2 separate regions of the Homo sapiens genome follow, and region 1 is linked to region 2. The links come from fine-mapping of genetic effects on gene expression. A gene starts in region 2. The other region holds a variant in brackets. All regions are shown on one strand. Distances are from middle to middle.

The links. PIP is the estimated chance that this variant, and not a neighbour inherited with it, causes the effect.
Region 1: its variant is fine-mapped to the expression of ORMDL1 in prefrontal cortex (CommonMind, PIP 0.95).

The regions. Positions count from the first base shown.
Region 1 is chr2:189,744,978-189,760,220 of GRCh38, reverse strand. It overlaps ANKAR (ankyrin and armadillo repeat containing), which reads right to left. Exons shown (of 23, transcript NM_001378068.1): 23 at 13,574-13,841. The coding sequence ends at 13,594. OSGEPL1 (O-sialoglycoprotein endopeptidase like 1) reads left to right here. Exons shown (of 9, transcript NM_022353.3): 3 at 4,661-5,048; 4 at 5,876-6,080; 5 at 6,157-6,305; 6 at 7,242-7,372; 7 at 7,497-7,568; 8 at 9,565-9,671; 9 at 13,053-13,561. The coding sequence ends at 9,643. Among named protein-coding and RNA genes, the nearest start is that of OSGEPL1-AS1, 10 kb to the left of the region's middle. The variant A/TA (reference allele first, on the strand shown) is at 10,977.
Region 2 is chr2:189,773,027-189,789,429 of GRCh38, reverse strand. It overlaps ORMDL1 (ORMDL sphingolipid biosynthesis regulator 1), which reads left to right and starts at 5,091. Exons shown (of 5, transcript NM_016467.5): 1 at 5,091-5,161; 2 at 6,307-6,416; 3 at 6,828-7,008; 4 at 13,714-13,865. The coding sequence starts at 6,835. It overlaps PMS1 (PMS1 homolog 1, mismatch repair system component), which reads right to left and starts at 4,980. Exons shown (of 13, transcript NM_000534.5): 1 at 4,837-4,980. RefSeq lists enhancers at 4,563-4,612, 5,163-5,392, 5,403-5,462, 5,553-5,632, 4,918-5,804 and a silencer at 4,973-5,022.

The DNA of each region.
Region 1 (15,243 bases), 29 kb after region 2:
TAGAAAAGGGGGAAATGTGGGGAAAAGAAAGAGAGATCAGATTGTTAATATGTCTGTGTAGAAAGAAGTAGACATAGGAGACTCCATTTTGTTCTATACTAAGAAAAATCCTTCTGCCTTGGGATGCTGTTGATCTATAACCTTACCCCCAACCCCGTGCTCTCTGAAACATGTGCTGTGTCAACTCAGGGTTAAATGGATTAAGGGCGGTGCAAGATGTGCTTTGTTAGACAGATGCTTGAAGGCAGCATACTCGTTAAGAGTCATCACCACTCCCTAATCTCAAGTACCCAGGGACATAAACACTGCAGAAGGCCGCAGAGTCCTCTGCCTAGGAAAACCAGAGACCTTTGTTCACATGTTTATCTGCTGACCTTCTCTCCACTATTGTCCTATGGCCCTGCCAAATCCCCCTCTCCGAGAAACACCCAAGAATGATCAATAAATACTAAAAAAATAAATAAATAAATAAATAAGAATAAAATACTCTACAGATGAGTATACCTTTAAGCTATCAATTTACAACATCTGAATAGTGAAAAAGCCTGGTATTTTGGAATCACAGTCCTGTATTTGAATCCTGAATTAAGCACTTGGTATTGGCTCTGTAACTGTAGGCAAGTTCCATATCCTCTCTGATTCTGTTTTCACATCAGTAAAATAGGAAAATTGGCTGGGCGCTGTGGCTCACGCCTGTAATCGCATCACTTTGGGAGGCCGAGGCAAGTGGACCATGAGGTCAGGAGATTGAGACCATCCTGGCTAACATGGTGAAACCCCATCTCTACTAAAAATACAAAAAAAATTAGCCAGGCGTGGTGGCGGACGCCTGTAGTCGCAGCTACTTGGGAGGCTGAGGCAGGAGAATGGCGTGAACCCGGGAGGCGGAGCTTGCAGTGAGCAGAGATCGCGCCATTGGACTCCAGCCCGGGCGACAGAGTGAGAGTCTGTCTCAAAAAAAAAAAAAGGAAAATTAACATCTGCCTCATAGAATTACGGGAGGGTGGCATTAGAAATAATGTATGTAAAGAGGCAGATTGAGCCTCAAACAATAACTATGTGAAAGGGACTGTGTTGGATATTAGTAAGGCACTGTGAAGTACTGCAAAGTCCTTGGTTTAAGGAAGCTTAACTTGATTATGGAGACATGATGTCTAGACCTACAAGGAGAATTAATAGTGCAAGGCAGCATAGCATAAGGAAAAACAAGTGGTGCAGACAGTAACTATTATTACCGTGCCTCAGCTTCACAGTCCTTTCAGTTTTTCCTGAGTGCACTGAACTTTTGAACATGTAAAAGTTAATGGCACAGAAAGGACTACCCTGACCACTTTATCTAAATTAGGTACTCCCATCCTATTTATTCTGTATCATCATACCCTGCATATTTTCTTTGTAATACTTTCACAATTTATACATTTGCTTGTGTATGTATAATCTCTCTCAGTAGAGTCTAAGTGCCAAGGTGACAGGGGCCATGTCTATATTAATCACTATGCTATGCCTAGTGCCTAACACAATGTTTGACACATCACAGGTGTTCAGTGGCCTTTCGTTAGGCCTTCAGTGAATGGAGATGGAAAGAATATTATAACCTGTGTTAGTTCATTCTTGCACTGCTATAACGAAATACCTGAGACTGGGTAATTTATAAAGAAAAGAGGTTTAATTGGTTCGTGTTTCCACAGGCTGTGTAGGAAGCGTGGCAGCATCTGCTTCTGGGGAGGCCCAGGGAGCTTTTACTCATGGCGGAAGGCAAATTGGGAGTAGGCGTCTTACATGGCAGGAGCAGGACCGAGAGAGGGGGGGTGAGGTGCTACACACTTTTTTTTTTCTTTTGAGATGGAGTTTTGCTCTTGTTGCCCAGACCAGAGTGCAATGGTGCAATCTTGGCTCATCACAACCTCCGCCTCCCGGGTTCAAGCGATTCTCCCCCCTCAGCCTTCAGAATAGCTGGGATTATAGGCATGCGCCACCATGCCCAGCTAATTTTGTATTTTTAGTAGAGATGGGGTTTCTCCATGTTGGTCAGGCTGTCTCGAACTCCCGACCTCAAGTGATCCACCCACCTCGGCCTCCCAAAGTGATGGGATTACAGGCGTGAACCACCACTCCCGGCCCACACTTTTAAACAACAAGATCTCATGAGAACTCATTGACTATCGCGACACAGTACCAAGGGGAAAATACGCCCCCATGATGTAGTCATCTCCCACCAGGCCCCATCTTCAACATTGGGAATTACCATTCTACATGAGATTTGGGCAGGGACACAGATCCAAACCATATCACTAAGTGAGCATTGTCAGCAAAGACAAAGAAGTGAGAAAGTACTAGACATTCAGTTTAGCTAGAGCATAGGTCACTTGAGGAGACTACTGGGCAAACAGGCTTCAGTGATACCATCCACCTGGCTCATCTCAGCATTTTTTGAATACCTATAGCTGCCAGGCAATACTTAGGGCATTTGGGATACAAATATAAATGAGACATATGACTCTTGCCTTTGAACAGCTCACCATATAAGTGGGTTAGAGTGTAGGCTTATATTCTGGTTCAGCCATTTACTAGGCTTATATTCTGGTTCAACCATTTACTACATTTGATACTGTGCACAGTTTTTTGTGCCTCAGTTTCCTTATCTGTAAAATGATAATAATGACCACTAACTCAAATTAATGTTGTGAATATTAAGTGTGAATTCCTTTAAAGCTTTTAGGGCATTCTTCTTGAATAGCAAGGGCTGAATACAAGCTAGCTCTTAGTAACAATAGTAGTTCTACTACTACCATCAGTAAAAATGAAGAAGACAGTAAGCAGATCATTGTGAAACAGCATGGAAAATGCAATAATAGAGGATTACTTGGCAGGAGGAGTCCCTTCTTCCAAGCCAGAAACCTGAAGGACACCCTTGACTTCTCCCTCACCATTCCACATCCAAATCAGTCATCCATTCATAGTAAATCCATCTCCCAAATATTTTTTGCAACTTTCCTCTCCCTTCTCACTGACTGAGTTCAATCCCTTATTGTCTTTTGCACAGACTCTTGGCTATAGCTTCAAGCCTCAGTGGTTTCCCTGCCTCTTTGTTAGCTTTGTTCCATAATCCACACTCCATACTGTCTACAAATCATAGACAAAAATACATTGTTATTATTAATTCTTTGAGAATAAAGCCATGTTCTTATTTGGCCCTAGTGTTTAGCATAATCCCTGGAAGATAAAATACACAGAAAAGGCATAGAAAGGAAAGGAGGGAGGCAAGACAGAGAAGGAAGAAATGAGTTGCAGGGAGAGAATTTGGATTTGATGTCTCCCAAATTCCATGAAACTAAAGGTTTTGAGTAGGGGAATAACTGGTAGCATGTGCTTTAGAGTATTCTCTGGCAGCAATATAGGATGGGCTCTAAGGATCAAAGGACAGAGTTAGGAAAGTACAATTAGAAGACTGTTGAACAGACTGAGATGAGGGCTTTTGAGACTTGGCAGTGGGAGTGGTGATAAACTTAAATGCGGAGAGTGAGGGAGAGAAAGGAAGTAAAGATGAACTTTGAAACCCAAGGGTTATTTGATGCCACTAACAAAGATGAGGAATATAAGAGAAAAAGTAGCTTTGAAGAATTAAGGAAAATTATATTACAATGTGGATGTGTTGAAATCAGATCATTTCATTTATATCCCCCTCATTGCCTGAAACAATATTTTAATTACTCAGCAAATATTCATTGAATGCACTTACTGAGGATTTTCATTTCTACACATAGAACTAGTAGATCTTGCAACATCAAATATTGGAAGATGATTTTTTTTTGAAACTAGCAGTGCGTTTTGCAGACTCTATTTTATTGCTCCAGTTCTCATATTGTAAATCAATCACATGGTAGCAAATTTGTTGCTAGCAAATTTGTCTCTTAGTTCTTTACACTTGATATTTGGAGTGGCCATCCACCATCCTACATGGACCAAAAATCCAAATTACAAACTCTGAGCACCAGATTCCCAAACTGTATTTCAGGATTGCAAGCTATCTGCTATCCTGCTGTGACCTCAAGTGGAATGTGTTTTAAAATAAACTCGTCGTCTTTATAAAACTGTCTTCATGTTTCTCTTTTAGAATTTCTTTTCTCCCGGTCATTCCAGCTGAATAGCTGAACAAACTTTGATGCCTTAGTCCCCCTGTCCCTTTATATTCAGTTAGTTATTATAGTTCTTAAGGTTCTCTGTCCCTTTCTTTCCATTCCCACAATCGCCCAGTTTAAGATATAATCATTTTACACAAATACTTTCGCAGTAATCTCTCTTAAAATCTTCTGTCAGCAAGGAAATTAATTTTCCTTAAATACAATTTTTTCCTGTCCTTCCCATGCTCAAAACTTGTATGGAATGCTTTACAAGATTATTTTGGTGATTTCATTTGTCAACAAACAAATCCATGGGAGTCTGTTGTGCATAAACTGAAAAAGTCAGAAACATTATCCCCTTAATTACTGCTTACTGAGTTTTAACCATAGTGTGCTATGTTAGAAGGCACACAATTAGAAAATACTTGACTTACTCAGCTATATAATGATTAACTTGAAGACATGCTTTTAGCTGTAATATCATTTTTCTTCATTTTTACAATCTTAAAACTACAAAATGCTGTCTTTCTTTCTTTCAGAACAGGTGGGATTGTTCCTCCAGCAGCTCAACAGCTTCACAGAGAAAATATTCAACGAATAGTACAAGAAGCTCTTTCTGCCAGTGGAGTCTCTCCAAGTGACCTCTCAGCAATTGCAACTACCATAAAACCAGGACTTGCTTTAAGCCTGGGAGTGGGCTTATCATTTAGCTTACAGCTGGTAGGACAGTTAAAAAAGCCATTCATTCCCATTCATCATATGGAGGCTCATGCACTTACTATTAGGTTGACCAATAAAGTAGAATTTCCTTTTTTAGTTCTTTTGATTTCTGGAGGTCACTGTCTGTTGGCATTAGTTCAAGGAGTTTCAGATTTTCTGCTTCTTGGAAAGTCTTTGGACATAGCACCAGGTGACATGCTTGACAAGGTAATTAAGAATTAATTTCTCCATTCTTTTTTGTTATGTTGTCCATTTCAACTAAGTAGCAATAGATGTGCTACCACCATTCACCTAAATATTTCTGAATTTTATCTTAGTAAACTGAAAAAAATTCACATATGGTGAGAAAAAATAGAAAGAGTAGTACACAATTTTATAATTCTTAGCCTTTCTTAATAAAATGGTAAGAGGTTCATATCTGTACATAAAGGCTGAAATAGTTTGCAGATACAGTTATGTATTTTGCCAAATAATGTATGTGAAAGAACGTGCTTCGTAAACTAACATACTGCAAAAAAGGTAAAATAAGAGAATATATATAGATTAACATAAGGACATTAAAGATGCAATGCACAGAATTAAATCACACAATTACTTACACCACAGACAGGGTCCCCCCCCACCCCCCTTTGTTTTAGAATACTACAGAGGCTACTGCCATATATAGGAAAACAAACAAACAAACAAACAAAACACTGCTTCCCACAGTGAAATAATAGGAAGTATAGGACAAGTTCTTATTATTGACGTTCATCATTAAGCAGTTATTGTCAACTTCAAGCCCATTTTCCAACCAATAGAAGAGCAAACATAGACAGGGGCAGTGATTGGCCTCTTATTGTTCGGGTCATCATAAGGAACAGGGTTGTCTGCTTACCTGAATATCAGCTATAGTCTATATTTGCCAAAGTATAGCATGTTTTATTCATTCAGGGGTTTTTTGTTTTGTTAGTAATTTTCAATTTATTTCCTTTGCATCTTTTCGTTTCACAGTATTTAATTTTATGACTCTAAAAAATATGTTTCTTTGATAGGTGGCAAGAAGACTTTCTTTAATAAAACATCCAGAGTGCTCCACCATGAGTGGTGGGAAAGCCATAGAACATTTGGCCAAACAAGGAAATAGATTTCATTTTGACATCAAACCTCCCTTGCATCATGCTAAAAATTGTGATTTTTCTTTTACTGGACTTCAACACGTTACTGATAAAATAATAATGAAAAAGGAAAAAGAGGAAGGTATATTTCTAATTAGTAAAGTTGAACAGATAAATATTCCTGGATTGTGCCTAAAAATAGCTGCTCATTTCTGCAGGTATTGAGAAGGGGCAAATCCTGTCTTCAGCAGCAGACATTGCTGCCACAGTACAGCACACAATGGCATGTCATCTTGTGAAAAGAACACATCGGGCTATTCTGTTTTGTAAGCAGAGAGACTTGTTACCTCAAAATAATGCAGTACTGGTAAGTTTTATCTCATTTTATAGTAATAGTTACACTTTGCAATATGTTACTTTTTTCCCAAGACCTTGACCTTGTGTTTAGGATGAACAGATCTTTATGCCTTATGCTAGCCCTGACAGTATGAAATTATGCAGGATAGGAAAGACTAACAGCCATTTCTTGTACTAGTTTGGTAGCTTTATGGGACAGCTGTATAGCTTCTATGGCACATAAGTCTAATTTTGCATCTTCTTGTTGGATTTAAAAGAGGGCTTACAATAAAGAAAGTAAATGCAGTAACTGCTATCACTATTTTTAGAAAAATAGGTGGATTTCCTTCATCCTTTGATGAAATCCCTTTGTTTGTTTGTTTTTTTAATAAGCCAGTCAAATTTAGCAGTGGGAGGTGGTATACCAACTTTCGTGACACTAATGTTGATAAAGTTCTGATAATCCACTATATTGTACCAGCCAAAATCCCTTTAATTGTGCTTAAAAGCCTTGACAAACATCCTGTTTAACTGTATCTTAAACTTTATTCATTTAAAAATTATAAACTAAAGTGGGAAAATGTTTAAATGGTAGTAATTCATAGATGGAATTTTACATGGATATCAAAGAATAATTTTTTCAGAGTTATGTAGTAAAATGCACAAAATAATAAAAATTTCAGGGTCTAAAATAGTGTACTATGATTGAAATTATATTAAATAAATATTTAGATGAAAGGTTGGAAGAAAATATACAAAAATGCTAGTAATGTTTGTATGCTATTAGAATTATTAGTAATTTTTTTCTTTCCAAATTTTTATTACATAGATATGTCATCTGCCCATTACCCATCTCAAAATGGGATAGTTTATTATTGTTTAATGCTGATATTTTTCTCCAGGTTTAATTAGCAGCTTGGTTCATATCCATATATGATAGTTATTTTGGTTTTCTCAATTCCTTCAGGTTGCATCTGGTGGTGTCGCAAGTAACTTCTATATCCGCAGAGCTCTGGAAATTTTAACAAATGCAACACAGTGCACTTTGTTGTGTCCTCCTCCCAGACTATGCACTGATAATGGCATTATGATTGCATGGTAAGCCACAGGATATACGTGCTTCACTCATAACTATGTAAATATTAATTGCCATTTTATCATACTAAGCCTTCTTCCTTCAGATCTTGGAGCTATTGATTTTATTTTAATGCTTCTTATTTAGGAATGGTATTGAAAGACTACGTGCTGGCTTGGGCATTTTACATGACATAGAAGGCATCCGCTATGAACCAAAGTATGTGGTATCATTCATGATCTTTATGCAAGTTACATTACTTAAGACAAAGCCTGGATTTTGCCTTTATATATGAGGTTTTCATTGACATTCTGGTGGTACTTGAAGGAAAGTTACATAAATTTCTTTCATGAACCTAGTTAAGGTTGATACCATATGAGAAATATTTTTGCTACAGTATCAAATTATAAAAATCTTGGCAAGTTTAGGTGAGTTAGAAACAGGTCATGAGTAAGGGTGATGAATTCCCTCCTTTGGAACTAGAATGTAAACTATGTCCATGACCTGGACTTTTGCAATGTCAAGAACATCTCAGAACCAGCAAGTATGCTGGGAAATTTAAGGAAAACATGCAGAAAGCATTCAGGTGTGAGAGTGGGTTGTGATTATGCTCTTACACAGGCAGTTGAGAATTGGCCGAAAGATAGCTGTTTCCTGCAAGCCTTATTTCCTCTCCCAAATCAAAGTTCCAGTGAATAGCACAGTTTTTTCTTTACTTTTTTTCTTTTTTTTTTTAGAGTCTTAGTGTCACCCAGGCTAGAGTGCAGTGGCGCATTCTCGGCTCACTGCAACCTCTGCTTCCCATATTCAAGTGATTGTCATGCCTCAGCCTCCTGAGTAGCTGGAATTACAGGTTCACACAGCTGTGCCCAGCTCATTTTTTGTATTTTTAGTTTTTGGGTTTTGCCACATTGGCCAGGCTGGTCTCGAACTCCAGGCCTCAAGTGATCCACCCACCTCGGCCTCCCAAAATGCTGGGATGACAGGTGTGAGCCACCACACCTGGCTGGTTTTTCAAATTACTATCAAATTCTGTTTTAATTCTGGAATAGTAAAAGACAATTATTTTCATAAATAATTATATTTTGAACACTGTTTCATCTGATGTTTTAAAACTTGTCAGCATTGGCCAGGCATGGTGGCTCATGCCTGTAATCCCAGCACTTTGGGAGGCTGAGGTGGGCAGATCATCTGAGGTTAGGAGTTCGAGACCAGCCTGGCCAACATGGTGAAACCCCGTCTCTACTGAAAATACAAAAATTAGCCAGGCGTAGTGGCAGGCACCTGTAATCGCAGCTACTCGGGAGGCTGAGGCAGGAGAATTGCCTGAATCCTCGAGGTGGAGGTTACAGTAAGCCGAGATCACGCCACTGCACTCCAGCCCGGGTGACAGAGTGAGACTCCATCTCAAAAAAAAAAAAAAAAAACACAACTTGTCAGCATTATATTCCGTAACTTGACAGTTGTGCTATATATGAATTACATGTATGCTGATGATGAATGAACTGAATTGAGTTAGTAGTACCGGAAGGCATCCCTTTGATACCTTGTCTCAGATAGAGTATATCCTCTGATTCAGTTATGCCCCCTTGTGGCAGTGTTGAGGCTGGAGATAATGGCTTTTTCCAGGTTGGGATTCAGTCAAAGCAAAGCCTTATCTTGGACACCATGGTAGAAAAGCAGAAATCTGAAGCAAAAATTAGTTACTGAGGAGGAACAGAAAAAGACAGCAGGAACTAAGACCTCTTTGGCTAGTAATGGCAAAGGATGGTAGAAAAGGGGCAAGGCAGCTTTTGAAACTTCAGAGAAGAACCTATAGAAACCTAGGACATTTCTAAAATGTGAATGGATACAGGTTTGACTTTAGCTGTGTGGCAAAAATGTTTTTACCTTTTTAGCTTTGTAGAGAATTATAAGATATTTTTCATTATTTTTATATTTCATTTTATGTTTTTAACTTATTTACAGTATTTGAGAACAGCAAAACTGTTTCTTTCAAAAATATCTCAAAATTTAGATTTCTTATTAATGAGACTAGCTTTCATTATCCTGACTTGAGGTCCCAGTATATTTGTAAGTATTTAAGAATCATCACCACATATGATGAATTAAATATTTGATATTTATACCATCAGAATTCTAAGCAAATAGTCTGCAGAACTAGTGATGGATCATGAAGCAAATAAATAATACGATTTGTCTGCTTATGATGTAGATGTCCTCTTGGAGTAGACATATCAAAAGAAGTTGGAGAAGCTTCCATAAAAGTACCACAATTAAAAATGGAGATATGATTTCTGCTGTTCAAAAAAGTCCCTAAAGGTAGTATTAAGGTTAAAATTAAGTTTTTATTGTTTTGTGTATCAAATTGTAGAAGATATATAATATTAATTATTCATCAAGATTTTATTTTTTTTTTTCTATTTGATGTTTTACCTGCTCTTCTGAGATACTATAATGTGTTAAAAGTCTTACAAGGGAAGATAGTTTTTTTCTTTTAATTATTAAAAACCAAAATAAAACATCTTTTGAGAAAGGAATGTATTGATGCTGGCAGGTAGAAAGGAAGCTTTGAAAGAAGCACAGTAATTTTGCTGAATTCTGGCCCTGTATCATACAGGCCTAGGACTTTCCCCCACTTCCTCAAATCAGGATAGGAGAAGCTATTTTTTAACTCCTACTGAAACAAGAACCTGACTTTATAATGAGAGAGCAGTTTAATTTTTTTTTATCATTATTATTTTTTGGAGATAATCTCCCTCTGTCACCCAGGCTGGATTGCAGTGGCGTGATCTCAGCTTACTGCATGCAACCTCTACCTTCTGGGTTCAAGCGATTCTCCTGCTTCAGCCTCCTGAGTAGCTGGGACTACAGGAGCCCACCACCACGTCTGGCTAATTTTTTGTTTTTTTAGTAGAGATGGGGTTTCACCATGTTGCCCAGGGTGGTCTTGAACTCCTGAGCTCAGGCAATCTGCCTGCCTCAGCCTCCCAAAATGCTGGGATTACAGATGTGCTCAAGAGAGCAATTTTAGATCAGTCATGTCAAAGCAGACATTTCCAAATCAAGACAAAAGCTGACTTTCTCTAACATAATATGTTATTAATTTTAAGAGTTCGTTATTAGGTATCATCTCTGGAGTAAATAGGATGTCTATGCATTTTTTAAAATCTATATAATTTGAGGTTTTACAATTTTAACATATAAGTAATCCCTCAAGTATGTATTGTACGCTTTAGTTGTCCACATACTTTCACATCAGTTATTTGAGAAATTGTATATAATCAGATGGAAATAAATGAGGGAGTTTTTTTGGATTTTTTTTTAATCCAAACTTTGTACTGCAAATATTATAAGCTTATCACTGTTTTTCTGCCTTGATTAAAGTAACTAAATGTACAATTCTTTGAATGTAACCCTCTATATCTGGAGGCCTTTCTCATACATAATTTTTTATTTCGATTTTTATAGACAGCATCTTGCTATGTTGCCCAGGCTGGAGTAGAACTCCTAGGCTCATGTAATCCTCCAACTTCAGCCTCCAGGGCCTGACTTTTCACACATTGTTTAAAAAAAAAAAAACCGTGGAGTAATAAAAATAATCTTTTTTTTTTTTTTTTTTTTTTT[A/TA]GACAGAGTCTCGCTCTGTTGTCCAGACTGGAGTGCAATGGCTCGATCTCGGCTCACTGCAACCTCCGTCTGCCAGGTTCAAGCAATTCTCCTGTCTCAGCCTCCCGAGTAGCTGGGACTACAGGCAAGCACCACCATGCCCAGCTCATTTTTTGTATTTTTAGTAGAGATGGGGTTTCACCATGCTGGCTAGGCTGGTCTCGAACTCCTGACCATGTGATCCACCCGCCTTGGCCTCCCAAAGTGCTGGGATTACAGGTGTGAGCCATCATGCCCAGCCAATAAAAATAATCTTTATAGGGGAGATTTATAGGAGAAGTAGTATAAATTTTAGGAGTGGTAGGATGGTCTGGCTAGGCCAAGATACTCAGGAAATATCTGGCATTGAATGCAAAGAAACTCTGATAACCTGAAAATAGTCCTAAAGTATAGTCTTGAGCCTACCTGAAACCAGTTTCAGAGCTCAAAAGTTGCTCTCTAAAGGCTTTTAAAAATATCTACAGAAACTTAATATTTCCATTGTTATAAATTCTTATCCTTAATGGTGCTGGATAACACAATTCATCACTTGAATATGTATCCCTTTCTAGTATAAAATAGACCATTTCCCTCCGCATTTCCTATATTTCAGTCAATCCACCAGAAAGTTGTGACTCAGCACCATTAAGATAATTTAGAAGTAAATATGAAGATTAAAGAGGTCTCTTATTTTTTAGTGGTTAAGAACACAAACTTTGCATGGTAGCTCATCCTAATGCTTTGGGAGGCCAAGGGAGGAGGATCACTTGAGGCCAGGAATTCGGGACCAGCCTGGGCAACATAGCAGAGACCTCAGCTTCCTGAGTAGCTAGGGCTACACGCCTGTACCACCACACTCAGCATAACAAAGACTGAGAACCTGTAGCCCTAGCCACTCAGGAGGCTGAGGTGGGATGATTGCTTTGAACCCAGGAGTTATAGGCTACAGTGAGCTATGATTGCACTATTGCCGTCCAACCTGGGTAACAGAGCAAGACCCTGTCTTAAACAGACAAATAAATAAATAATAATTCATTCACCCACTCACTCACCCACTGACTTTGGACTCTAGCACATAGAAAGCCCTAAGTACATATCGGGGAAAATAACCGCTAATTAATATATACTTTCAATGCTTACTGCAGCCCAGGTAGAGAATGGATTATAGCAAGACCCTCAGACTGTATGGAGGCAATTCAGCAAGTGGATGGAGAAAAGGGGAGCTTTAAAGTACACAGTGAAGCCAGGCGCAGTGGCTCATACCTGTAATCCCAGCACTTTGGGAGGCCAAGGTAGGCGGATCACCTGATGTCAGGAGTTCAAGACCAGCCTGGCCAACATGGTGAAACCTCATCTCTACTAAAAATACAAAAATTAGCCAGGTGTGGTGGCAGGCGCCTGTAACCGCAGCTACTCAAGAGGCTGAGGCAGGAGAATTGCCTGAACCCAGGAGGCGGAGTGAGCCAAGATCCTGCCACTGCACTCCAGCCTGGGTGACAGAGCAAGACTCCATCTCGAATAAATAAATAAATAAGTAAGTAAGTAAAATAAAGTACACAGTGAAGCCAGGTGTTTGTATCATATCTATCTGCAGCTATAAAATAGGAGAAGCAGACATTGCTATTTGAGCAAAGACATCATATGGTTCTAAGCCACAAAGACTATTACCCTTTCCAGTTGCAAACCAAAGACACTATAAATATGGAGAATGAGCAACACTGTTAGCCACAAAAGCCATACTCATGTACTTGATGGGCAATGATTTCAGATTTTATTTTTAAATAAAACTTTTTTTCCCTTTTAAAAAATTTTTGTTTTATTTTCTTTTTTAATTTTTCTTTTCTGCTTCATCCACTGACTCTCAGACTTTTTTTTTTTTTTTTTTTTTGAGACAGGGTCTCACTCTCTGACCTCAGCTGGAGTACAGTAGCCAGATCACAACTCACTGCAACCCTGACTTCCTGAACTCAAGCAATCCTCCTGCCTTAGCCTCTTGAATAGCCGGGACTACAGGTGTGCATGTCCATGCCCAGCCAACTTTATTTCTATTTTTTGTAGAGACAGGCTCTTGCCATGTTGCCCGGGCTGGTCCTGAACTGCTGAATTCAAGTGATCCTCCCACCTTGGCCTCCAGAAGTGCTGGGATTATGGGTGTGAGCCACCATGCCTAGCCAAAATGTTTCTTAAGGTATACATTTTGGGTCTTAGAAGACTTATACATTTGTAATATTTATTACTAAATATCTCAAAGTATTACAATAAATGTTACCATGTGAGCTACTTTGAATCAGGCTTCTTGCACACCAATTTAAAAATGTTAACTCTTGATATATACACTAGTTATACCACTCATGTCAGTCAATAAATTTTAAGGTTTAAGTGCAGGCCTTTGTTTACAGAAATCCTAATTTTTTGAAACCATAACTCTGACCTGACACTAAATTCCTGTAGACATGCTAAGGAAAATCTGCTTAGTATCGAGATCAAGAACTTTCATTCAAAAAGATTATTCAGTTATGTTATTTGCATATTACCATTATTAAAAATAAAAAAATTTTTAAAAGATGGCTCAGGAATCCTTTCATTCTAAAATGTTTTATTAGCCTTCTGCAGGCTCTGGGTTGGCTTTCTGGACATGTTTCCCAAGTTGGTTCAAACACACTATTCTTGGTCTTGATACATTTGTGATATCTGATGTAATTGTAGATGAAAAAGAAAAAATATTATGGGAATCCTTGGTCTTTTTTGTTGCTTTGAAGAGTCCCATGAAGTTAGTTACAGGAGGTAATAAAGTCAAAGAATCTTTTGGTTGAATTTTAGGTTTTAATTTTCTTCGGTGCTCCTTCCCTAAAAATTAGCCACAATTAAATGTCTCTCCTGAGAGCCCTAGGTATAGTCTCATTACTTCTACTTCTATGTAGTTCTATTTTCTTTACATAACTAAAACATACTAAGAGAACAGATCAGTACTTCCAGACATTTAGATGTCAGGGGCCAAAAATTTGTGGGGACCACTATATGGTTTGCTAGCTTGTTATGTCAAGTTAGCACCAATAAGAGAACGAATACTACTTTAAATATCATTATGTAAAATAAAGAATATTTTAATACTAAAAAAAGTGTAAAAGGCATTATCTCAAAATGATGGACTTGATATTGAATGAAATTAATTTTATCAGAAACGTGCTACCTTGCCCTTATTTTTTCTTATGTTACTACAAACCTGTGAAAACTTCATCAGATCATGACTGATAAACAGGTTGTTGTTTAGAAACCAGTGTTAAAGTGAAGAGTGAACTGACTATTCTTTTATGTAAATTACTCTAACATTCAAGAAGCTATATAAAAAATGGATGCTTTTCTACCCATGATATTCTATATATATTTCTATATAGCCTCCCCACATACCTAGCTTCCCTCATATACTGGCTGAATACATGAAATTGTTTCCTCTCCTTTTACTGTCTTTTTAAATTCTCTTCCTTTCTGTTTGTGACTCTAGCAAACTGATCTTGACTTCTGAATGTTTCTATCCTTGATTTTCGTGATAGGACAACGTATCAAGACTGATTTTGGTCCTACACGAACAAGCACTAAGCAGATATGTGAAATTAACAAGTAATTTATATTCCCTATTACATATCTAATAGGAAGGGATAAATAATATGAGATCTGGACTCTGATCTCTGCAGATCTAGTCCATTCAAGTGTAATGTACCAACTATGTACAAAACTATATAGAGTATCAATGGAAAAAATGTGGTCTCTGCCCTGAGAATTCAGATAGGTAAGTTGTTTCAGATATAAAACAGCAAAGTCATATTTACAGGTTGTTTAAATAATGACTTACTTCTATGCATGGTTTGAGAAAAGCAAAATAAGACAGGAGTCACTTTCAAGTGATATAATAGGGAAGGCCTTACAGAAAATGATCAATATGGGCTTGTAATTAGGAAGATATTTTAGGTAGACAGAATTACAAAAGAGAAGTATGCAGGTAAACTTTTTTGTGGGGGTACCCTCTACTTTTTTTTTTGAGACAGAGTCTCACTCTGTCACCCAGGCCAGAGTGCAGTGGTGCGATCTCAGCTGACTGCAGCCTCTGCCTCCCAGGTTCAAGCGATTCTCCTGCCTCAGCCTCCCAAGTAGCTGGGATTACAGGCACGCGCCACCATGCCTGGCTAATTTTTGTATTATTAGTAGTAGTAGTAGTAGTAGTAGTAGTAGTAGTAGTAGAGATGGGGTTTCA
Region 2 (16,403 bases):
TATAAAATAGGTATTGGGGGTTCACCTTTATTACACATAAACTCAGCAAATCACTGAAATCCCTCCATAAATCAATTTGTCATCTATAAAAATGGAGCAAATCACTCAAATCCCTCCATAAATCAATTCATCATCTGTAAAGATGGAGCTAATACCTCACTGGTTTACTGTGAAGAATCAAATAAGGAAGAATATATAAAGTGTTGTTCTACAAATGATAAGGCCTTATAAAATGTAGAGTATTATAATAAGAGATCATTATGTAAAGGAATGCTGAGAATTCTTTTTAAATACTAACTACCCTCTAATTAATCTATATATTTGATTTAGTTTTGGGGTACCCAGTTCTCAGGAGAGCAGCTGTGAACAACTACCTTTCAATAGTTGTTTTTGTTGTTCTCAACAGCTGGGAGGCTTTCCTGTCCCAATCAAGCAGGGAAACAGTGGACTATAGGCTACTCCATCATCATAACATTCACACAAATTAGTGCTGTCACAAGCAAAAGGCACCTCTGCACTTTTCCAAAGCTTCAGAATTACCTCGATCTAAGGGACAGATCTGCACTGTCCAATATGGTAGCCATCAGTCATATGTAGCTTACTGAACACTAGAGCACTAGAAACGTGGGTAGTCCAAATTGAGATGTGCTAATACACACTCAATTTCCAACTCAGCATTAATAAAAATCATATCAATTTTTTACATTGATTATAGGATGAAATGATTTTATCCTATTTGGATACACTAGATTACATAAAATATATTATTAAAACTAACCTTTTAAAAAATCTGTTTAATGTGACTACTAGAAAATTTAAAATGATAGATGTGGCTTATAGTTCCATTGAACAGTGCTGGATAGAGCAGTGGTTAAAATGGCAGGCTCTGAAATCACACTACTTTGGTTTTATCCTAGCTCTTACACTAACAGATATGTAACACTGAGGAAATTAAACTCTCTAAAATGCAATCACCTAATCTATAAAATGGATCTAATAATGATATCATATGATTGTGGTGAGAAGTAAATAAAGTAGTATATATAAATAATGTATTACAGTGTTTGGCATATAAGTGCTAAAAACATCCCAGGATACTGGGACTAAACTGAGCTCCTCTAAACCCCTAAATGAACAATCCCCCCACCTCTAACCCCTACCCCAAAGGGGCTCACACATTAGGCCTGGGTTCAAGAAGTCTTCCACCTCAGCTAGGAAATCCCAAGGATCTAAGAAAAACACTGATCAACAAAACTTTGGGGTATAAACTTAGACTGACTCCTTCTGAGCAGTCTTAATCTCATCATCTTTGTCTCGTTTCCTATAATACCTCATCTCCTACAATGCCAAATCCAAGATCTTTTTTTTTTAAATCTCTATAATTGCATCCCAATATTCCTCATTCTTCTAGTTTACTAAGATCATGGCAATTCATAGCATGAATTCTGTCACACTTTATCTACCCCATCCCATTGCATCCTCTGGTCTTAAGATGTCTGCATCTCTTTTCATACTCTTCTTCCATGTCATGTCATCTTTCTTCTCTCCTAATTGCTACAGTCTGAATATTTGTGTCTCTACCAAATTCATAAGCATATGATATCTGTATTGTCTCCATTTTATAGATTAGCTGATTGAGTTTTAGAAAGTTTAATTTCCTCAGTATCATATAGCTGTTAGTAAGAGCTAGGATAAAACCAAAGTAGCGTGATTTCAGAGCCTGCCATTTTAACCAGTACTCTATCCAGCACTGTTCAACAGAACTATAATGTACATACATCATTTAAAATTTTCTAGTACTCACATTAAAAAAGCTAAAAAAAAAATAAAAAAGTGAAGTTAATCTTAATTACGTATTTGGATAATCTAATATATTCAAAATATCAAATATCATTTTGTCCTATAATCAATGTAAGATAACTGTAAAGATTAAATTAATTAAATTGTATAATTAAACCTACTACATCTTTGTCCTGAACTGTAAAACTTTTTTTTTCCTGCTGTACAACTTTTGAATGTAGGAAATTATGTATTATGTATCTCTGGATGCCAGGCAGAACAATCAAATGCTTCACCCATGGCAAGCCCTTCACTTCATGAATATTAATGAAGGACCACTAAATATAATTTATCAGCATCTTTCTTATGCTAACGCAAACATTAGAAAAAGTATCCTCCTTCCCTTTATATACATAATTTCAATTGGCTTCCACACCATCCTCCAGCTCACCTGTATCTCACACTTTTTTTCTGGACTTTAGGGCCTTACTTCCATCTACCTTCTAAATATCATCATTTAGATGACCTGAAGGCAACCTAAACATAACATGTCCCAAACTGATCAGAGAATCTTTCTCTTTCTTTTTTTTGAGACAGAGTTTCAGGTTTCGCTCTTGTTGCCCAGGCTGAAATGCAATGGCACAATCTCCGCTCACTGCAGCCTCCACCTCCCGGGTTCAAGCGATTCTCCTGCCTCAGCCTCCCGAGTAGCTGGGATTACAGGTGCCCGCCACCACACCTGGCTAATTTTTTGTATTTTTAGTAGAGCCAAGGTTTCACCATGTTGGCCAGGCTGGTCTCAAACTCCTGACCTCAGGTGATCCGCCCGCCTCGGCCTCCCAAAGTGCTGGGATTACAGGCGTGAGCCACCACGACTGGCCTCTAATCAACTTTCTTCCTATATTTCTTGTTTGATAATAAAAGTAATAGCCAACATGAGAATTTTATATATATTATCCTATTTAATCCTCACAACAACTCTACGTATTCTATCATCCTTTATCACCAAATAGGATTTAAAGGCATGGTAACTTGCTCAAGATCACAAAACTATTAAGTGGCAGATGCACACCTTGGCATGTTTGACTCCAAAGGCCATGCTCTCAAACACCTTCCATCCAAGCACATAAAGCAAAATTAGAAACCTTGAAGTCATCCTAGAAATTCTACTCGCTCTCTACATCCTGCCACCCAGTCATCTCTCTCCTACTATCTAAATGTTTCCCAAACTAGTCCTCTCCTCTTTGTACTGCCTCCATTCGGCCTTTCTCTCCTGAACTACTGCAATAACCACCTAATTGATATTTTGACTCGAATCTCAACCACCTATAGGGTTCTTTCTGTATTTAAATTTCATCATGTTGCTGCCCCACTTAAAATTTTTATAAAGGTTTCCAATTGCCAACCAGGTTAAGTACAAACTTCTTAACAACTGGATTTTTGCCTCCTCTCCCAGTCATCCCATCGTTGCCCAAATGTGCTCTAGGGCGATCATACTGCACAGCTCGTCTTTTTTTATTTTTTATTTTTTGTGACAGGGTCTCACTTTGTTGCCCAGGCCAGAGTGCAGCGATTTTGGCTCACTGCAACCTCTGCCTCCCAGGTTCAAGCAATTCTCCTGTCCCAGCCCTGCAAGTAGCTGGGATTACAGGAGCGCACTACCACGCCCGGCTAATTTTCGTATTTTTAGTAGAGACAGGGTTTCACCATGTTGGCCAGGCTGGTCTCGAACTCCTGACCTCAGGTGATCCGCCCGCCTTGGCCTCCCAAAGTGCTGGGATTACAGGTGTGAGCCACCGTGCCCAGCCAACTTGTCTCTCTTAACATGGTGACACTCACTCCTTCCTCAGCTCACATGGTTCTCTCTCAGCTGACTTCTAATCATCCTTCCAGATTTAGTTCAGTATCAACTCTTCAAGCCTTTCTTCCCTGCTGCAGCCTCCTTTCCTTCACCTGCCAACAGATTAGGTATTCCTTCCCCTGCAGTCCCCCTTTACCTCATTTCTAATTAACCTCATCACAAGTTACTCTATTAATATGTGTTTCTGTCTGTTGCTCCTGACTCAGAGTTCTTTGAGGACAGGGGTTTTATATCAATCACACATCGCTAGCATAGCCCCTGGAATATAGCACTCTATACCATATGTGTACCAAATGGAAGGGTTTATATCGGGCTTACAAATCACAGCAAAGAATGTCTGGGAATATCAGGATAGTCAGTCTTCCATATTTGCTGGGAGGGAAAAGGAACACTTCTGAAGAAGTGCTGATGACCCGGAAAGTCAGTTAAGGACAACAGGTGTGCCTAAAAAAGAAGTAAAGATCAGAGAACTCACAGACTTCCATTAGAGAGAACACAAAGAAATCATTTATTTAAAGATCAGACTAAATCCAAAACAATTAGGTTCACAAAGCCAACAGAAATGCAAGATACAGACATACACAGCCAACATTCTCTTAAGTCAATTTCAAAATGTTGAAAGCTATTTCGGCAATAAAAATCACAAACTTTCTGCACTGCCAAGGTGAGGGAAATTACATTTCAAAGGCGATTCCAAAAAAACCTAATCAAGACTTTCCTCAGGATCAATTTTTGGTATTCACATTTCCTTAGCATGTAATACAGGTGCCTGTCTTCGGCGTACGGATAAACCCAGAAGGCCAAGAGCAAAAATCGTGATTAACTTTAAAGAGTTTAACTTGCACCCCTTGTATGATGCCACAGGATACAATACTATAAACCGCCACTCACACAAGATGAGTTACAGTTGCCATGGGTTAAATCTGCTGCCTGGAAAACAAATTTTAAGTCCTCCACCCAGAAGGGTCTGGGGAATGGGACGCAACAAAGACCAAGCCAGAACACCCCGGAGCCCAGACCTGCTCAGAAAACGCGTTCCACGTGTGCGCGCCCGCAAGCCCGGCTTCGCTTCCCGCCCCGCGGGGAGCGCCCTTAGCTGCCCTATAGCGTTCGCGCCCGGACCAGGACGAGTAGAGGGGACGGGGCCCTCGAGCCATCGAGGATATAATAAATACCCGTTAGTCACACCACACTACCTTCCTGCTAGCGCGAGGCAGGCAATTACCATCCACTAGCCGCAAGCAGCCAGCGTCTCACCCGATGCGCAGGCCCAACCCCGCACCCGCACCCGCACCCAGCACGCACGCGCGCGGCAGAGCGGGTGCAGAGAGCGCGGCACTGAGTCCCGCCTCGCCCGGGGGCAACGTGAGATTGGCGCTGCTCGCAGCCAATCCGCTGGCAGCGAGTCTGTCCGGGAAAGCTTCCGCAAGCTGCGCAGCGCCGGGCCTGAGGGCGTGTATCCGCGGCCGTAGCAGCCGGGCTGGTCCTGCTGCGAGCCGGCGGCCCGGAGTGGGGCGGCGGGTAAGTGGGCACGAACGCGGTGGACGCTGTACAGTCGCCTTCGTCGGTAGGGAACTGCTGGCGGCCTAGGGGTCGTCCTGAGAGGGAAAAGCGGGCTCCGGCTGCATCTGCGGCGCCCTGCGTGGCCGTAAGAGCCAAGTGGCCTCAGAGGCTCGCCCCCTACGCAAATCCTCGTTGTCTTGCCAGGGTCCTGACGTGACGTGCGGCCGCGAGAAGGAAGGGGCGGGTTGGGGGAGGCGCTGAGGTGGTAGCAGCGGCGGCTTTTGCTGAGTTTTCTCTGGCCCAGAGCGCTCGGGCTGTCGGTCTAGCAGGGGGGACTCCCCTGAGGGGCCGCTGCGGGTCGCCGTCTTCGGAGGCACCGGCGAGGGCAGAGCCAACAGCCTCTTCACGGTCTGTAAGGTCATTGTTTGCCAGTCGTGGGCAGCGCGGCAAACCTGCTGGGAAAAGGTTTTCTGGTTGGAATAGGATGAGTACCGCACCAGCTTTGCCTTCCAGCTGAGATGTAAATTTCAGGCCTCCATCCTGTGGAACGTGGGAAAACTATCTTGAGTGTTGGCATGTTCTAAGTATGACATAATAGTTTAATGTATGATAAATCATGGGTGTTTAGACGAAAGATTTACACATATAAATTGGAGGCTTTAGCGGTCTTAGTGTAACTAACTTTTCGTCCCCTTAACCCTTGATGCCTGTTCTATGGGTCTCTAGAGCGGAAGGAGCATTATACTCCGGAAACATTTGCTGGAAGGGGTTATGAGAAATTCCTCTCTGTATGCTAACTCCGTAATACAAGCGTTTGTGTATTTTAAAATCACAGCTGTTCCAAATATAATCTAGCCTCGTTTTCCCCCTCCGTCGGATGATAGGTGTTCTTCAGGACAGTTTTATTTTAAGCAATTCTTAGTCTCAAGTAAACACCATCATTAAAAGAACTGAGAACTATTATCAATTCTTCCTTTGGAGTCCATCTTCAATGGAAAGGAGAAGGGAAAACCTTTTTTAAAAAGAAGAAAGAAAACTGAAGTTTTTGATTTGACTAGAGAAATATTCAGAAGACTCCTTATTTTCACCTAGTTTAATCACAAAATTGAGAAACAAACATTATCCCTTGACCATGTAAATTTTACACCACATTATGTCAACAGCATGTACCTTCCACATTGAGTATTCAGAAAGAAGTGATCTGAACTCTGACCATTCTTTATGGATACATTAAGTCAAATATAAGAGTCTGACTACTTGACACACTGGCTCGGTGAGTTCTGCTTTTTCTTTTTAATATAAATTTATTATGTTGGTAAATTTAGCTTTTGGCTTTTCACTTTGCTCTCATGATATAAGAAAATGTAGGTTTTCTCTTTCAGTTTGAATTTTCCTATTCAGTAAAACAACATGCTAGAAAACAAACTTTTGGAAAGGCATTGTAACTATTTTTTCAAATAGAACCATAATAACAAGTCTTGTCTTACCCTAAAGTCAAATGCTGAAGATTCTTTACTGCTGTCATCAGCATCTACAAGTAGCATATTTTGGATGGTGTTTGTGTGCTACTTCAAAGTAACTAGGAAAAAATAATCCTCGCAACACAGGTACCTTGTCATGTCAGAATTGGGGGTGTTAGGTTGCCAGTTGTATCAGTGTTGATTCATTTCATTACTTCCTACAGAGCAAACATGAACGTTGGAGTTGCCCACAGTGAAGTGAATCCAAATACCCGTGTCATGAACAGCCGGGGTATGTGGCTGACATATGCATTGGGAGTTGGCTTGCTTCATATTGTCTTACTCAGCATTCCCTTCTTCAGTGTTCCTGTTGCTTGGACTTTAACAAATATTATACATAATCTGGTAAGAATTTCACATTATACTAAACACTTAAAAGTTTTAAGTTTAGTGGTTGCCGGAAATTAAGGGGAGGAAGGAATGGAAAGTTATTGCTTAATGGGTACAGAGTTTTTGGTTTTGCAAGATGAAGAGAGTTCTGGATGTGGATGGTAATGGTGATGATTGCACAACAATATGAATGTTTTTAATACCACTCAACTGTACATTTAAAGTCCCAGCACTTTGGGAGGCCAAGGCAGGCAGATCACAAGGTCAGGAGTTCAAGACCAGCCTGGCCAACATGGTGAAACCTCATCTCTACTAAAAATACAAAAATTAGCCGGGCATGGTGGCGCATGCCTGTAGTCCCAGCTACTCGGGAGGCTGAGGCAGGAGAATCGCTTGAACCTGGGAGGCAGAGGTTGCAATGAGCCGAGATCATTCCACTGTACTCCAGCCTAGGTGACAGAGTGAGATTTCGTCTCAAAAAAAAAAAAAAAGTGTCTAAGATGGTAAACTTTATGACATGTGTGTTTAAACATAGTTTTTAAAGAAGCTTAAGGTTTTGTGTTGTATACAACTTAGTTTTTTTAACAGCTTTTTTGAGATATAATTCACATGCAATAAAATCCACCCATTTAAAGTGTATAGTTTAGTAGTTTTTAGTATATAAGACTTAATTTTGAAGAATTCTAATCTGGGATAGAATTTTCTTTTTTCTTTCACGCTTTATTTCAACATTGGTCCTTTTTCTAAGTAAGACTTTTTTTTTTCTCATTGTATAGAATCTAGAAAATAGATCATTTTAGTTTCAATCCTTGTTAACTTATCTATCTAAATAGTGTAAGTATACTTCACTGTTTCAGTATTTAAGTTTTGAACTTAATCATCTTATGTGATTCAGGATCTTATGGTGCCTTAGCTGCTGCTTGTTACTCTCTTGTGTTAGCTCTACAGAGTATCAAAGTTTTGATTGACTGTACTGACCATATTATGCAGCCCTGGAAATTGCCTTTTACAAAAACAAAAAATCTTGACAGCGACTTTTCTTGTCTTTAATAACCCATTAAAGTAACGTGAAAAGGAGGAAATACAGTTAGTTGAGGATTTTAATTGAATCCAGTTTAGCAGTACATTTGTTGAAAGATATTTTTTAAAATGAACTTAAAGCATTAAGACAGGAAAACAGGAGAAATTGATTTTTAAAAATTAATATTTATTTTGGCCAGTCACGGTGGCTCATGCCTGTAATCCCAGTGCTTTGGGAGGCTGAGGTGGACAGATCACTTGAGCTCAGGATTTCAAGACCAGCCTGGGCAACATGGTGAAGCCTGAAATTCTGTCTCTACAAAAAATACAAAACCTTAGCCTGGCATGGTGGCAGCACATCTATAGTCCCAGCTATTCGGGAGGCTGAGGTAGGAGAATCGCTTGAGCCTGGGAGGTGGAGGTTGCAGTGAGCCAAGATCGTGCCACTGCACTCCAGCCTGGGTGACAGTGAGACCCTGCCTCAAATAATAACAATAATATTTATTTTCTATCTTCTGGAGTATATTTGAAGTTGACTGGAGGAGGATAAGAATGATGTGCTGGTAGACATGATAAATATGTGTCCATTTAGTCCATTTTATGTGATAGACTTTGTAAGAGCAAACGATGTTTTCTTTTAAATAGTGACTTCTCTGAAATATTTTACACTAATCATCTCACTTTTGTTGAAACTTCCTTTGGCTTCTATAGGATCACTTTCACCGGCATATATTTCTGACCTTCTCTTTCTTCTTATGGGGTCTTCCTTCTCTTTTCCTCTCTTAAATATTTCTATTCCCAAGGTTCTTTTCTTCATCTCTTCTTATGCTATGTATTCTACCTAGGTTACTTCATCTACCCATATTTTCAGTTTCTACCTGTAGAATAAGGATGCTCCTATTTATTTTTATCACCAGATTACTTTGCACCTTAAACCAAACAAGTATAAATGGAACTTATCTTATTCCTGATTACTCCCTTACCACCCACAATCTGATCCTCTGGCTTCACTACTAATCTTATCTAAAGGCCAAGCCAGACAGCTGAATGTTAATGGTAAAGCAATTAATATACAGGTTGAGCATCCCTAATCAGAAACCCAAAATAGAAAATGTTCTAAAATTAGAAACTTTTTTAGCACCAGTGTTGTGCCACAAGCGGAAAATTCCATACCTGACTTCCTGACAGGTTGCAATTAAAATGCAATCAAAACTTTATTTCATGCACAAAATTATTAAAGATACTATATAAAATTATCTTTAGGCTGTGTGTGTATGATGTATATGAAACATAAATGAATTTCATGTTTAGACTTGGGCCCTGTCCCCAAGATATCTCATTATGTATATGCCGATATTCCAAAATCCAAAACAATCCAAAATCTGAAACACTTCTGCTCCAAAGCATTGTGGATAAGGAATACTCAACCTGTAATGTATAGTCCAAACAGGCTGTTTAGAGAGTAAAATGGAGCTTTGGTAATAACTACTACAAGAGATTAGGTATAATCAGAACCATCGTATGCAAACAAGAATACAAGGTCACCTAAGTCTTAGGATAACTTCTTTTCCTTTATATTCCATATCCATTTGCTCAGAGCACTGTCTTCTACTGCTTTACTCTCAACTTGATCCCCATACCCTCATTTTTTCCTCAAGTAAATTACTCAGATAAATCAAATAGTCTTCTTGATGCTTCTCTACCCTTCTCCATTCCAGCTTGGCAGAGTGATGTTTTAAAAATGCATGTTTGCTCAAGTCATACTCTAAGTCATTCAGTGATCATCCATTGCAGTCATGGTAAAATCCAAGTTTCTTGTGTGACATATAAGACCAGTTGATAACAGTGCAGAAACAAGGAGACTTCACCTTGTCTCAACCATCTCTAAATAGAGGCTATACACTAGCAATAAAGAAAATCATCTTGCTCTCATTTTATTGTTTTGGCTTAAGCTTTTCTACTATATTTTCTTTTCACCTGGACCAAGTACTCTTTTGTTTTTAAGAGACTGGCGTGATCATAGCTCCTCCCACCTTAGCTTCCCAATAAATTTGAGGACTGCAGGCACATGCCACCACACCCGGCTAATTTGTTTTTATTTTAATAGTGATAGGCTCTCACTATGTTGCCCAGGCTGGTCTTGAACTCCTGGCCTCAAGCAGTCCTTCTGCACCATCCTCCAAAAGTGCTGGGATTACAGGCATGAGCCAGCATGCCCAGCCATTTTGTTTTTCTTACAGAGACAGGGTCTCACTCTGTTACCCAGGCTGGAGTGCAGTGGCATGATCATAGCTCACTGCAGCCTCGAACTCCTGGTCTCAAGTGATCTTCCTGCCTCAGCCTTCCAAGTAGCTAGGACTATAGGTGTGTGCCACCATGCTCAGCTGATTGACTGATTGAGATGGGGGTCTTGCTGTGTTACCCAGTCTAGTCTCAAACTCCTGACCTCAAGTGATCCTCCTGTCTCAGCCTCCCAAAGCATGAGTGAGCCATAGTACTCAGGGTCTACTTTTATTTTTTTTGAGATGGAGTCTCTCTGTGTCATCCAGGCTGGAGTGCAGTGGCGCAATCTTGGCTCACTGCAACCTGCACCTCCCAGGTTCAAGCAATTCTCCTGCCTCAGCGTCCTGAACAGATGGGACTACAGGCATGTGCCACTACACCTGGCTAATTTTTGTATTTTTAGTACAGATGGGGTTTCAACATGTTGGCCGGGCTGGACTTGAACTCCTGACCTCAGGTGATCCACCTGCCTTGGCCTTCCAAAATGCTGGGATTACAGGTGTGAGCTACCATGCCCGGCCCAGTCTCTACTATTTTAATACCTCTCCCTCCTTCCTGCTCTGCCTGATTTCCTACAGCAAAACTGTCCCTCCAGGAATCTACACAACTCCCATGCTGCATTCTTTTATCATGTGTTTGTCATTGTTTTATAATTAGCAGTTTATCTCTTTATGTTTTAATTTTTGTATCGCTAAGAACGTATTTAAATGTTTGCCGAATAAGTTAGTCCTTTTTTTTTGAGACGGAGTTTCACTCTGTCACCCAGGCTGGAGTACAGTGGCACGATCTTGGCTCACTGCAACCTCCCCCTCCTGGGTTCAAGCGATTCTCCTGCCTCAGCCTCCTGAGTCGCTGGGATTACAGGTGTGCACCACCATGCCTGGCTAATTTTTGTATTTTTAGTACAGACAGGGTTTCACCATGTTGGTCAGGCTGGTCTCGAACTCCCAACCTCAGGTGATCTGCCCGCCTCGGCCTCCCAAAGTGCTGAGTGTGAGCCACCACGGTTTAGATGCCATCCCTGTACCACCACCACCCCCTAACCGTGTTTCAAGTTGGTTGACCATGGACAAATGATTGGTAATTGACATTGTATAGAAAAGCAAACTTCTGATTTATTTGTTATTAGTTCACCACACTAAAAACTTAATTAGCCATCGGAGTTGCAATTACATGACTCCAAATTTAAGTTTCCTTTGAATATAGCCACATTAAACCAATTAAAAATCTGAAGTACATATTGAATGCCTTTAAAAATGAGAAAATGGACCTAATTGTTACACCCGGTTAGAAAAATACAGTATATTTGCCTTTCTGAACCGTACAGTAGAAACCTACAGTGGTTGCTTTATTAAGTGCTACCTCACCCTTAGAGGTATTAATGCTTCACAGGATTCTTGGCCCAGCTTTAAAAATGAATGATTCATTTTGATTCAGTAGGTATTTAGTAAGGACTAAGCATGAGCTACATACTTTTGTTCTCTAATTCTTTTAATGGAGGAATAATAATCACAAACATTTTTACATAAAAACAATTTAAAAAATATTGGGGCAGTAGATATATGGCCAGATAAGATTTTATTATTTTTCACTGAAAAGATGTATAAAATAAACTGTTTTGATATTCTAAACACTAGTTAAGTACATATGGTTTGAAGGAAATAATGAGAGGATGATTATTCTCTTATATTCTAATATCTATGTGGTCTGGAATAGATGTTCTTAACTTTTTGGGGGTCCTATACCCCCGATGATTTGAAAACATATACTTTCTGTTTTATAATTCACTTTAAAGTCCATATGAAAATGGTTTCGTAGAGCTTACAGAATAAATACTCCTTGGCGTAATGTCATCTTCCAACATTTCTAATGTTGGAAGTGTCCAATGTCTAATGTCTTGCGGTGTCCCAGTGCTTATTCCGAGTGTATTCAGGCTAATGGGAAAACAAACATCATGCAAACAACTCTAACATGATATATTGTACTGTAATCGTATTTTCAATAAAATTGTATACAACTACATAAAGAGGAGATTAATTATTACTAATGAGGTAGGTTTTTCTAAGGAATTGTTATTTGAGCTGAACCTTTAAGAATGAGGTAATGAAGTAGCATCAAGACTTTTGGCACAGCAACAAGGAACCTTTCCCTCCCCTGCCATTTGCTGAGTATTCTGATTGTACCTTTGATAGCAATTTCTGCCCTACTTTCTAGCTGTTTATGCATTTTTTTTCCTTATCATCTCTTGGAGGATTGAATTTTTCCAAGGCTTGGGTACATCTCATTCAATTTCATATGTGCATATATGTCCTATGTCTTGTACATATAAGCCACCTATTAAATGTTTGATGGGTTAAATCCAATTGAACATGAGTCCTTTCCTCCATAGCTTACGTGTTATTGTAGCTAAACGACTTCTGAATTGCCTACTGGAATAACTAGGAAGTAGACTAAGCCTTGAAAGGAAGGGCTTGGTTAAGTTGGTATCATATAAAATTTCAAATCCCTAATTTTTCTATATAATCATTAAAAGTAGAGGTAGGAAAAATGACATCACATTGTGGCGTCTAGAAGGAAAAACTTTGTGTCATGATAATATTTAGGCATTATCCCTTTACATAAAGTGCCTCAAGCAGTGATCCTGAATGAAACACTGCCTATGAGTCTAAATGGGTATCATAATCTCAAGGAAACCAAATCTATAGATTGGTTTTTTTCTACCCTATTGATAAAAAAAATTATATGTTTAGACATATGATCTGACAGAATGGCTTTTAGTAATGTTATTTGCTTTGAGTTTTTAAAACTGACTTCAGAAGAAATGCTATTGAGGCACAATAGCGATTTAAAAAGGGAATTGAGTGGAACATTATACCTATTATATCAAACTATTTTTATTGCTTTGGAAGAGAACTATTAAGGCAAAGGCAGTCATCATATTAAATATCTCAAAACTATTTTTCCCAATAGATTTTAATCATTTTATTGTTTTCTACCACTTTGTATGTCTTTATCATTTTTTAAGTATCATCAAATTTACTAATATACCCTGAAGAAAAACCTCCTGTACATTGGGGAAAAAGTAATCCTATTTCCTAATAGGAAAAGTGTAAGAAAATCTGAATGTAAAGATATGAAGCTACCCTGATAATTATTTTTAGTTTAACGAATAGAAATGCAAACAGGTTACTTTCAGTTGACCTTTTACCAATTCTCACTTAATATTTTTATACCCCAGAAAGTTCTATTTTATTATAAAGAAACTGGCTACAGCCTTTCACTATTATATGAAAGCTTAAAACGAACTCAGTTAAATCACACACTCTCACAAACAGCTTGGAACCTCGTTAATGCTACTGACAAAGACTAATTTTGTATTTAATATTGATCATTTATAACCCCTTGCTTGTTTTCCAGGGGATGTACGTATTTTTGCATGCAGTGAAAGGAACACCTTTCGAAACTCCTGACCAGGGTAAAGCAAGGCTCCTAACTCATTGGGAACAACTGGACTATGGAGTACAGTTTACATCTTCACGGAAGTTTTTCACAATTTCTCCAATAATTCTGTAAGTGGCAGAAATTTTTAGGTATGAGGAGGATTGGATAAGAGGAAGATATCTTTTCATCAGATTGAATTGGAATTAGAAACATATTTTGTTGCAAACTTCTATCAATAAGTAGCACCTCGGATAGAACATAAAATATAGACAAAATTTTTAACAAGTTGATAATAAACTAATTTTCACTTCAGTCAGTACATATACGGAGACAATATTACATGCTAATCAGTGCACCTAGACATTTAGGATATACAGGTCAAATGTATTCCAGCTCCCGTCCTTAGGTTTCATATAAGGACACAAAATACATAATCATATTCTATATTGCACTGTCAGATTAATCTCCTTAAGCAATGATTTAGATAATGAGAAGAATTTCACTGGCCACCTATCCTATTAAGATATTCAGACTCCTTGGGAAAGAGTATGGTTTCGAAAAAAGTAGGTCAGGCTTTCATTATAGGATAGACCTGGGTGGAGTCCTATATATATCACTCAGCCAGCTTGGTTTGCTCATATATAAAATTCTAGCTAGTGATACCTAATTCAATCCTAATGCTGTAAGAAATAAATGAGATAATAATCTACCTGGATAGCATGTAACCTGTATCTGGTATCTAATTTCTTTCTCCTATCTGATGTTCTGGGCCTTCCAGAAAATAGTTCTTACCTCCTTTTCCCTTGATGTAAATATTTTATCCCCACCCAACTCCTACCTGGCCTTCTAAGCAGCATTTCTTGAATATTTCATGTGTAGTCCTATTTCTGTCTTTGTTCAAATCAGTTCAAATCATATCTCCTACCTGAAATGCCTCCTCCTTTTTTCCCCAGCTTTACTGAGGTATAATTGACAAATAAAAAAATGTATATATGTTTTATTTTGTCTCTCCAAAGAATTTATAAGTGCATGGATTGCTTTGAATCCCACAGTAAGTACAGTGGCCTACACATAATAGAGGTATTGCTCATATATCTTAATACTCTGTACCATCTAGCCTATACATAATAATGTCCATGATAGAGTCAGTGCAGCCTGGCATAGCACAAAAGACTTCTTGGAGGTGTTGGAAATCCTTATGTTAGAACTTAAGAGAGACTAGGTTTTAGATATTTAAGTAAGGGAAGGCATTTTTAAAGTGAAAGGAATAAACTGATCATAAAATAATGGGGTTCTTTTTCCTTAATTTATAGCCCTTTGAGGAAATTTTGAATTGATTTAGTCCCATATAATATTAACCTCAAAGAAAAGTGTCAGTGTAGTCTGATAAAAATAAATGTAAGCTACATGGGAAGCTGAGGCAGGAAGATGGTTTGAGCCTAGGAGTTAAGAGGCTGCAGTGAGCTGTAGTCACACTGCTGTACTCCAGTCTGGGCAACAGAGCAAGACCCGATTTATTAAATAAATAAGTGAATGAATGCATGCATGCATGTAATAACAAAAATATTGGTTATTCAGATGGCCCTGAATTTGGATTTTGGCTCAACCCCTTTGAAGCTCTGTGACTTTTGGCCGTTTTCTTCAAAAGCTCAGTTTTCTCATCTGTAAAACATTGAGGATTGCATTATAATACATGTAAAATGCCTGACATTCAGAAGTTTTAATCACAGCTATCACACAAAAAGCCAACTGAGATGTACCTGTATACAGTGTCCATATTTCTCAAAATGTATTTTTGACCAACAGGTATGATTTCAAATATTCTGATTAAATTGCTTACTTAACTGAAGAAATAGCATTAAAGCCATCTATATAGCATTAGGACTTTTCAGTGCTTTCACATTTTCTTATTTGATTATTTGTCAGGTAGGTGTGACATGGAATGTTATTCCAGAATTTTTTTTTTTTTTGAGACAAGAGTCTTGCTCTGCTGCCCAGGCCGGAGTGCAGTGGCATAATCTTGGCTCACTGCAACCTCCGCCTCCCAGGTTCAAGCGATTCTCCTGCCTCAGCCTCCCCAGTAGCTGGGACTACAGGCGTGCACCACCGTGCCCAGCTACTTTTTGTATTTTTAGTAGAGATGGGGTTTCACCATGTTGACCAGGCTGGTCTTGAACTTCTCACCTCAGGTGATCCGCCTGCCTTGGCCTCCCAAAGTGCTGGGATTACAGGGTGAGCCACCATATTCCAGATTTTTAAGTAAAGAAACAGACTCAAATGCATTACCTTGTTGAAGATCTTGCACCTAGTTGGAGTTCAGAGCTCAGGTTAAACCCTAAACTACTATCTTGTAATACAGGTCTCTTTCCAATATAGCTGTTGGCAAATAAATGTTGTCACACTGAGTCCCACCTGGGTTTTGCATACCATCAGAGGATTGCCTAAGTTTTTGAAAGAGTCAAGTAATTTTCATATAATCTACACACAAAATTAGTTTTAATTAAAAGACAAAAAGGGGACATATGCTAGGTTATAGTCAAAAGAACCCATTATAAGATTTATTATTTCTAACCTATCAGATTATAGATTCAACCTGTAATGATGGTGGGAAATGAAATGAGTTTGCTAAATGCAAGTGATGTCCTATTTTGTTCAGTAAAGGAAGT